3 linked regions of the Homo sapiens genome follow. The protein of the gene in region 3 interacts with the protein of the main gene of each other region in a pairwise test. Each region holds a gene or a part of one and is shown on either strand. Other genes may lie near its edges. The genes, in order: MAP3K4, MECOM and TPR.

Evidence for each region.
Region 1: the proteins of TPR (region 3) and MAP3K4 interact in a two-hybrid assay, tested with the Homo sapiens proteins (one large-scale study listed by BioGRID and IntAct).
Region 2: the proteins of TPR (region 3) and MECOM interact in a two-hybrid assay, tested with the Homo sapiens proteins (one study listed by BioGRID).

The regions. Positions count from the first base shown.
Region 1 is NC_000006.12:161,043,686-161,047,345, reverse strand, and holds part of MAP3K4 (mitogen-activated protein kinase kinase kinase 4), read right to left. Parts: intron 1-3,660. UniProt on the Homo sapiens protein: Component of a protein kinase signal transduction cascade. Activates the CSBP2, P38 and JNK MAPK pathways, but not the ERK pathway. Specifically phosphorylates and activates MAP2K4 and MAP2K6.
Region 2 is NC_000003.12:169,090,200-169,093,859, forward strand, and holds part of MECOM (histone-lysine N-methyltransferase MECOM), read right to left. Parts: intron 2,904-3,660; coding exon 2,759-2,903; intron 38-2,758; coding exon 1-37.
Region 3 is NC_000001.11:186,365,233-186,368,892, reverse strand, and holds part of TPR (nucleoprotein TPR), read left to right. Parts: intron 1-910; coding exon 911-1,007; intron 1,008-3,660.

The sequences.
Region 1 (3,660 bases), on a different chromosome or scaffold from region 3:
GCCTCAGCCTCCCAAGTAGCTAGAACCACAGGCACGCATCACCACACCCAGCTAATTTTTTTTTTTGGGTAGAGACAGGATCCCACTATGTTTCCTAAGCTGGTCCCAAATTCCTGGGCTCAAACAATCCTCCCACCTCTGTCTCCCAAAGTGCTGAGATTACAGGCATGAGCCACTATGCCTGGCCCATTTTTTTAAACATATATATATATATATATATATATATATGCATAAGTGAAATATATATCTACATATCAGAAAGTATAAAAGATCTCTTTAAATAAATAAAAATTCCAATTATAAGAACACACCATCAATTATAAGCTGTTTTTACCTTAGAATATATTATAATCTCTTAGTATATATTTCTTATATACTAAGAATTTTATTATATATATTAATATAATAATTATACTAAGAAATTATTATATAATTTTCTTAGTATATAATATCACCTAGTTTTAGGTGATTAGTTGGGAATATATAAGAGATTAGTTGTGAATGTAATATCTAAAGACATATTAGTATATCTTCAGATTTGATGGAATAGGGTATATTTACATGGGTTACAAACCAATATACCACAAACCAAGGCACCAATGAAAATTTGCTTAAAACCAATTTACTTCCTAACCGATTCAAATTAGTCTTAAAATAAGGATTTTTAAACAAATTTCCCAAAGAGCACTTATAGCTTGGTTTTTCTTATATTAAACTTGCCTTAAATTTACTTTATGATCCATCAAAAAAGGTTTTAAACCAATCTGTCCATAGAGATTTTTTGCTGTATTTTAGTATACAAACTACTATTATTATTATTTTTTAAATTTAAAATTTTTAAGATAGAATTTTTATCTTTAGTACTAATCTACTTCTAAATGTCTTTAAACTTTTCATATAGTCCATTTAAGAAAATTTCTTCACAGTTTTATTGTTTCTAGCTATAAATGCTTATCAACTCTTATTTATATAAAAAAATTGCTTAGACCAACTTTAATTCTCTTGCTCTGATGCGTTTAACTGTGTTTTTTATACCTTTATTAACAGAGCACATACATACTATTTGGTTAACCCATGGTATTTTGAAACCAAAAATGACCAGTGCTTCCACATTTAACTCCACTATATTTTTCAAGATAATTCATATTATACTTTATTACTGGGAAACACAAAATGACATATACATTGTATCACTGTGTAGGACTGGAGGTAAAGAAAATGAGTTCAGTTTCTAATACACTGAATTTGACGTGCCTATGGGACATACACGTGGAAATATCTATAGGTAACTAAAAAAACACACATGTTGGGCTTAGGAGAGAAATCCAGAGAAATGGATTTGGAAATTATTAGTATGTACAGATATTATTTAATATCGTGATAGTAGATAAGAACATCCAAGAAAAGTGTGCAGAAGAAAGGCAATGAAGACCTAGAATAGAATGTGTATTAACTATTATGTACACCCAAATAAATGATTTTGAGTCAAAGAAAACAAAAAATTGTGAAATAAAAAACAATCTTGTTGGCTCAGGCGTTGGGCTTTTTAAAATACTTTATAGAACTAATGTGGTGCATTATTGATAATGGCCACAGACTATCTGCATACAATTTATAATTGGAAAGTAATAGTTGAGAGTGAAAAAATATTACTTTTCTTATATAATTTATTCAAGTTCTTCTAATCTATGATTGAAAGGTCCTAAGTGAAAACTAAGGATTAAATGACTTTAATAGTCCCAGAAGACTGGCTACAAGCATTATTCCAAATCTGTGCTACACTTACCAGGGGCAAAACATGAAAATAATAACAGATGAAGCTTCTCACCCTAGACCTTTATTCCAACAATGAAAGCAATCTAAGAAAAAATGCCACAATCCCATTTTTCCACATAAACATAATCTCATTTCAGCAAGCCTGAAAAAGTAACTTTTATAGGTTAAATACAAATCTTGTTAAGTTTATCTCACAGCATACAAAACAGTCTATTACACAATTTTTTGAAATTTTGTGTTCAGATAAAGCAATGGTTTAATATTTGGACCTACATAGTAGGTTTAAGGAAAAGCAAATTGGGAAAGGAGCAAGATGGGACAGAGAAGCTTTTTGTTCCCCCCCACCCCAAAACAAAACCCAAGTTGGTTTTGGAAAAATATACACAAAATATAAATTCATACATCTTAGTTTAAATAATGACGCAATTCGAACTTAAAATAGACAAACTCGTGTCTAGCTACTGTGCAAAAAGGATATACCAATTACTCTACCTCAGCAGTAGCTACATTTTTAGAATAATATACTTGTGACAGAAGGAGAGGGTGATTTGGTTTGTATATTTGCCCCCTCCAAATCTCATGCTGAAATGTGACCCCCAGTGTTGGAAGTGGGGCCTGATGAGAGATGTCTGGGTCATGGGGGCAGATTCCTCATGGATGGCTTAGTGCCCTCCCCACGGGAACCAGCCAGTCCTCGCTCTATTAGTTCATGTGAGAGCTCTCTCTTGTTCCCTCTCTCTCCATGTGACATGCCTGCTTCCTCTTCACCTTCCACCATGAGTAAAAGCTTCTTGAGGCTTCACCAGAAGCTGAGTTGATATTGGTGCCACGCTTGTATAGCATACAGAACCATGAGCCAAATACACCTCTTTCTTTACACATTACCCAGTCTCAAGTATTCCTTTATAGCCAACGCAAAATGGACTGACACAGAGAGTAAATCCAAGAGTGCTTTCTGGCAACTGATGACCAGTTAGGCCTCTATAAAATCATAAGGGACTTATGACTTAAGGGAGATCTGAGAACAACACTAGGGTGTTGGGTGCGGGGGTAGTCTATAGACTTAGTCATTTCCCTGAGCATTTTTACATTTTGTCTTTACCCACTCTGACATGACTAAGGAACTTTTTAATAACAACCAAAAGCCTATTACTGATGGACAGGTGTGCTTGTTTTTTGGTTTCCTATTAATACTAAATTCCTTTGCAATTAACAAAAGTCAAATGGAAACAGAGCAGAATTCTGAAAAGGAAAATGAATAAAAAGTACAGGAGTTAGCTATATAGAATGTTTTATTTGGCAAGTTCTAATTACAGGACTACAAAAATAGTTCTTAATAACTTGATGAATGGGACACCTGATCTCCCAAGTGACTATAAATGAAATGGTGTGATTTTTGTAGCACAATTAAAGCAAACCTCTGGAACACTTTTTCCTTTGGCCAATCACCAATAATTCTGGTAAAATCAGAAGAACATAAAAATTTTTTTAAAAGAAAACTTTATAATGAAACTGAAAGGAACCAATGACAAGCAATATGGTTCATCTGACGGATATAAGACAAACAAATGAATTCCCACCATCTACAACTAAAAATGGCTCTTTAGAATATGTATTAATTGTATTTTTAATCAAACTCTTGCAATTTTTATGTTCTCCCATATACATATTGTCCAAATTTTAGAAACCAGCCTTATTTGAGCTCTCAAATGAGATGTAAACAGATGGATAATCTTTAAGTATGAGATGATCTTCAGAGTAATGATGAACTAGAATACCAGACAAGTCAGCAACCTGAAGGGACTTAGAGATCATCTAGCTCAAGCTTCTCAAATTTCAGTGTATGTTCGAAATCACTGCGTTCCTGCTAAAGTGCACGTATCT
Region 2 (3,660 bases), on a different chromosome or scaffold from region 3:
CAAAGCCTTTTCATCTTTAAAATGACTGCCATTCATTCTTTCAAAAGCATTAAAAAAAAAGTCCAATTGTTGGTTTCATTTTTAAAATTGTAATTTGTTCCTTTATTATGTCTTCCCAACAACAGTTTAGATTTTCAACACTTAACATCGGAAATGTTTTATTGTTTATGCTCTACGTCAACCATGAAAAAATAATGTGACTTCACAAATGGGAAGATAAAGAAAAAAATAATTGTATGATTGTTCAGATTATAAATGAAGCCTCTGGCAGAACCCGAAAAACAATCTTGGTCTCCCATTTCTTATCAGACTTTGCTTGATAATTGATATTGCTATATATATCATATAAAAAGGCACATAAGTATGTTCTCAGCACAATTTACCTAATTGCCATGTAAGTACCCACCATTTAAAATAATAGATTTCTGGAAAATTCATATCACTCATGGGCCGTAGCTACAATACACATGCCTAAAGTGACTCTAAAAGTCCAAAGACAATGTTAAAGTAGTTACCAAGAAACAACTGGTATTTACTGATACTAGATGACATTTGTGGTACATTCCACCTAACCACTCTACCCATATTTGGAAGTAATTGACAGCTCACTTATTTGTACTATTTTCAAATTATTTTTTACAGTCTGAATGTGAAATAGTTCCTTGTTTCTCAGGAAAACGCCAGGGTGGAAAAAGCTCAGGTATTACAATGTACCCCCATCACTTTCCCACATAACAAAAATGAGTATAATTTAATATTCAGATTTCCCAGGATTAAAAAATAAATAAAACAATCTTGGATGTGACAAACACACATAGTAAAAATCCATTTGACCAGAAAAAGTCATATCATTATTAAGCTTTTAATAAAAACAATCGCTTAACCTCTTTTATCAAAGAATGGTGAAAACATCTTTTGCACAGACATAAATTAGTTTCCAAACACACTGCCAACTTGCTTGCATGAGTGGATTAAAATTTTTATTTAAAAAAAAGAAAGAAAAAGTAAAAGAACAAAAAGAGTGCATGGATGAAAATCAAAAGTAACAAAAGCCAACATAATTAAGAAAATCTATTTGTTAATTAAGTTTTCAAATGTGGCAATTTACAGAGAATAAATTATTCATCAAAAGTAGCCTGGTAGGAGTTCAGGGGAAAAACTTAGATGACTCAACCTTCTTATTTCTGTGCTGTTTAGACATGCTGAAGCCAGATGTTGCAACTATACAGGCTCACAAATCGCCAATTAAAGGCTAGAAAATTTGAATAGGCATCTCAGAACCCAAATGGTGTGTTTTGTTCAACAGTTCTTATTTGCATCAAGTAAATATCATTATCAAAGTATAAGATCGTCACTGTTTCTTGCTTGTTCTTGCTACTTTGTCCTTCTGATCATCTGCTTCCTCTCTCCCTTTCACAAACAGACAGACAGACACGCACACACACACACAAATGGGCAAGTAAAGGGAAAGGTACATCCAACTGCACACTGGTGTAGTTATCAGACTTCTCAGAGACTGGAAGGGTCTTTTTTCTTGTTTTTCTTTGATACACTTTTATACAAGTTGAAAAACAGAAGTGGTCATTTTTTTTGTTATTTTAGTAAAAAATGTTTATTTGATGTTTGCCTTGAAAAAATTACATAAAATAATTAATTTTGACTTTTGATAACATCAAAAACAGAGGACACTAATCCAATAATACTTGTATGATGAAAAATAATGGAACTTTTAACTAATTTCATGTTATTTTGAAATTTACAATGTAGCATCTGAATTTAATAGGTCACTATATAGTCGTGTTCAGAAAAGTCTACTTCTCAACAATAGATATTTAATTATAGCTTACAGATAAGAAAAATTAAATCCAGTAGTTTTGGTGAAATAGTGTTTCATTAACTTCATATGCAATGTGAAGTGCTGGGTAACTGTTAAGTATTATCATTAACAGCATTAAAAGCTTTTTTAAATGAATTAAGCTATTCATGCTTAATGTTGGTGATGATAAAAGGGAGCCAGTGCATCAGGGCAGTAAAAACAAGGATGTTCATACCCACTGAAACAAACAGACCAGAATTAAATGAGTAGTCACTTAAGAGGACATAAAGTAGCAATAGAATCTTAAGAAGACTATAAAAGCTTCTATGTAAAATATATTTGGGGGAAACTCCATGGGTATTTCATATATAAATGCATACATACATATGTACTATAATATGTATATTACATATATACAGAATATACATATATGTATTTATGTATAATACAGGTATATAGAATCATATATTACCTGTAATATATATAATTTATGATGTATAATAGTAGCCACTATTGATCAGTGATTCAACTGAATCCCTGTGACGGCTTTCTCTTCTACTTCTGAAATTTTGATAACAGATTCTATTCAGCTATCAGATAGCTAAATCCTGGTAAAATTATGGGCTCTGGAACCAGAGAGCTCAGGTTGAATCCCATTGATTACTTATGTGACCTCTGACACAATGGTTTAAGCTTCAATGTCTCCATTCCTTCACTGCTAAAATTATAGTGGCTATCTCATAGGGTTATGATGAAATTAAATTAATTAACACATGTAAAATGCTTGGAAGCATTTAATGTGGTATTTAATATGTACTAAATATATACCAGTCTTTGGTGACTGAAGTAATAGTAGTGCCACAAAAGTGAGCATAGCAAGTATATTTTAAAACATGTTCATTTCAGTCGTCACAGAGTTTAAAAAGTAAAAGACAGCTTTACCTCTCCTCCACATTCCTGGGAGATTGGCTGCCATGGTTGCTGTTCCCAATGAAATTTCGAATTTCTGTGAAGTAAGCATCTTCTTTGTCATCCAGAATCGCACCTGTACTTTCCAGTTCAGAATGAGGCGACGATGTTGCTGTACCTGTGTGGAGCAGAAAGCCTTTTATGACAAAGATTATTGTTTATCTAGCAACTTATTTGGAAACTCACTCCTTATGAATTTGATCAGTGCTGTTTCTTAAAACATGCCCTATGAATATTAATAATAATAACTTTAGAAAGTCAAAGTCTCCCCAGTTTACCATAATACACATGCCCATGACGGTCCTTTGGGAATATATTGAACCACTGAAATCATGAAGTACAGTCTCGCAAAGAAGGTGCTTCTCTCACTAGCTTTTCCTTACCTCTATTGTGACATGAGAATATTTGTATTCACATAATGAGAATTTAGAGTGAGACAAATTATGAACAAGTTTTAAATAGATTCTGCCAAGAGACACTCTATATGAAGTCCTGGTTGCAGTCAACATGCCTTTTTATTTATTTATTTATTTTTTGGCTACTATGCTAAAGCATATAACAAAATACAGTTTAAAGGCACACTGAAAATTCTGCATCCTGGTTTGCTGGGCGAAGCTGTGAGTTGACTCAGAACACTCCAGTCCAGGGGTTGGTGCAGTATTAAAAGGACAATATTAGATATGCTGATTACAGGATGATCTTCCCCTTCCTTGCCTATGCACTGCAAGACTCACAATACCCGTATCACTGGATTGGTGTAAGGCTTACATAAACTTAAACCACTTTTACACTTAAGCACTTTATATGTGGTTGAGCTTTACACCAACATTAGCTTCCTGTTGTTTATCTTGCCTACAAAGTATCTGTAATATAAT
Region 3 (3,660 bases):
TAAATGTAAGACCTGAAGCCATAAAACTCAGAGAAGTGAACATAGGGGAAAGGTTCTTGACATTGGCCTTGGTAATGATTGTTTGGATCACATCAGTAGTTCAAGCTGCAAAAAGAAATAAACGGAACTACATCAAACTAAAAAGCTTCTACACAGGAAACAAGAATATTAAAAGGCAACCTACAGTTCTGACATAGGTAGCTTGAGATAGATATTTCTAACTCAAAAACATGTAGATTGCCATTGTTTTGCTGGGAAGCAGTTTGACAAGTTTTTTGTTTTTGAGACAGGGTCTCACTCTGTCACTCAGGCTAGAGTGCAGTGATGCAGTCTTGGCTCACTGCAACCTCTGCCTCCCGGGCTCAAATGATCATCCCACCTCAGCTTCCTGAGTAGGTGGGACCGCAGGCATGTGCCACCATGTCTGGCTGTTTTTTTCTACTTGTAGAGACTGGGTTTCGCTGTGTTGCCCAAGCTGGTCTTGAACTCCTAGACTCAAATGATCGGCCCAGCTTGATTTCCCAAAGTGCTGTGATTACAGGCATGAGCCACTGCACCTGGCTGACAAAATATATTAAAAGTTTTAAGTAATTCAATTTTTAGGAATCTTTCTTGAAAAATAATTTGAACTAAGGTGTAAATACAGTGATATTCTAAGTTATTAGGACATTTCCATGTGATTAAAAGAGATATGAGAAAAATTTTCATAAGCCTAGTAAAAATGTTTTAAAAATCCAAAATTTAAATAGAAACATTGGAATTACGGGTATTTTTTAACTTTGATGTGTAAGTTATAAGAGAAAGCCAGTCATTTACACTACAGCTGATGTTAACTAAAGTGACAATTCTATGTTCGCTTTCCTGTATTGCTCTACTTGATTTTCTTACTTATTACTTCTTTATATGACAGAGCCAATTTACAAGAACAAAGGAAGAATTAGAAGCTGAGAAAAGAGACTTAATTAGAACCAATGAGAGACTATCTCAAGAACTTGAATACTTAACAGGTATGAAGAAGTGCTTGTAGCTTTTAGCTCCATTCCTTTATTTTTCTTCTGTTAGTGCTAGGAGTTAGTGCTCAGCCCATTTCTGTTGCTGATATTTTTTTGTTATGGTTGAGTATAGAGTTGTCATATCCTATTATTTCTCCTACTCATTTATCTTTAAATCATTGTCAAGTGTTTAAAGAAGTGTCTAGAAAGTGCACAAGTGAAGAACATCTCAAAGAAGTAGTAATTTGGACCAGATTTTACATGCAAAGATTTTCACTACAATGCTGTACATAATGTCAAATTGGAAGCACTTTAAATATTTGCAAAGGCTGAACTACTGTTCTTTATTTCATATGGACATCCTTGCTATATAATAAGCATTCAATATAAGAACATATACTCAGCCTATATTTATAAACAGACTGAAGGAGGCAGAGACATAAAATACATAAACATAGACTGTAGTATATAATACAGCTGATGTAGTCAGGTGAACTTGACTCTGAAGCAGTTAATGGTAAGAAGTTTCCTTTGGTGCCCAGGCACGGTGGCTGACGCCTGTAATCCCAGCACTTTGGGAGGCTGAGGTGGGTGGATCATGAGGTCAGGAGTCCAAGAGCAGCCTGGCCAAGATGGTGAAACCCCGTCTCTACTAAAAATAACAGAAATTAGCCAGTCATGGTGGCACGCACCTGTAATCCCAGCTACTTTGTAGGCTGAGGCAGAGAATTGCTTAAACCCAGGAGCCGGAGGTTGTAGTGAGCCAAGATTGCGTCACTGCACTCCAGCCTGGGCGACAGAGCTAGACTCCGTATCAAAAAAAAAAAAAAAAAAAAAAAAGGTGTTTTGGGTTCTTTTTTTTTTAATGGTTTTTGAAATTTTTTTATTTCTATAAAAGAAAGGATTTTCAGATATTTATATCATTATACAATAATATTCCATTAGTTAAGTATACTTTCCCAGTCTCACAAGAGTTCCTTCAAAATACTTGAGTGTGTTGATCAACAAGTGGTAGTTACAACTAAACGAATTCATAAAATCTAGATATTTAATAGATAGTTTTTTAAAAATGTGTATTCCATATTGAGTAGGTTTTTATATTAGTGCTTTTTAGCTTAATGATTATTTATAAAATTTTAATAGGTCTTTGGATATATATCAGGAAAATTAAGGTTAACGTTGAATATTTAGCTTAACACACTGTATTTAAAATAAATTTGGATAATTCACAAGTTTGGATACACAAATTTCAATTTTTTGTCATATATTTGTAGAAATTGAATTTGTAATTAACTATGGCAGAAACAAGTTAAAATAAGAGAGTTGAGAACTACAGTTGACCCTTAAACAACACAGTGGTTAGGGTTGCTGATTCCCCCCACAGTTGAAAATTTATGTGTAACTTTTGACTCCCCAAAAACTTAACTACTGCTGTTAACTAGAAGCCCTACCAATAACATACACAGTAGATTGTCATACGTTTTGTCTGTGATCTGTATTATATACTGTGCTCCTTCAATAAAGTAAGCTAGAGAAAAAAATGTTAAGAAAATCATAAGGAAGAGAAAATACGTTTACTGTACATTAAATGGAAGTGGATCATCACAACCATCTTCATCCTCCTTGTCTTTACATTACCTAGGCTGAAGAAAAGGGGTTGGTCTTGCTGGGTCAGGTTGCAGAGGTAGAAGGGGAGGCAGAAGAGGGAGGCACACTCAATGTAACTTTACGAAATACAGCCTAATTTCTGTCTGACTTGCTTTTTCATTTCTCTAAAAATGTTTCTATACATTACCAATCTTCCTTCCACCGTTTGCTATAGTTTCAGTGCCCATGTAAGAGAAGGATCCATGTCATAAAAGAAATCAAAAGCAGTCTTGGGTAATCAGAACCCTTCCACCAGATAGTCTGTTACCAATATGTTTTCTGACACTGCTAGTTCTACATTCTTTTTCCACATCGTCTGGCACTGGTTTGGAAGCACTCATCTCCATCCAGTCATCTTCTGTTAATTTATCTGATATGGTGGCTATTAGCTCTTGGATTTCTCCAAGGTCCGTATCTTGAAACCCTTCATCCCACTTTTTTTGCCATATCCACAATCTCTTTCATGATTTCTTTGATTGGCTCTGTTACAAATTTTGTGACATCATGCACAACATCTGGAGAGTTTCCTCCAACAGGAATTTATTATTTCAGCCTTGATGGCTTTCATAACTTTTTCTGTAATGAAAAAGAAGGGATGGCCTCTTCAGTGTGTTATCCTTTAAAACTTTCATGATATTTTCTCTGTTGGGGTTCTCTTCCACAGTGTTGACATTTTCTTTTCACAAAGTATCATCTCTATTGAGCCGTAAAGGTCCTTATGACTCCTGATCTAAAGGCTGAATTAGAAACATGTTTGGGAGCAAGTAGACTGCTTTGACACCTTCCATGTTGAACTCCTGGGTTCTGGGTGGCCAGGGACAGTGTCTAAAGTCAAAAGAACTTTAAAGGCAGCCCCTTGGCCAGGTACGGTGGCTCATGCCTATAATCCCAGCACTTTGGGAGGCCGAGGCAGGTAGATCACCTGAGGTCAGGAGTTCGAGACTAGCCTGGTCAACATGGCAGAACCCCATCTCTACTAAAAATACAAAAATTAGCTGGGCGTGGTGGTAGGCGCCTGTAA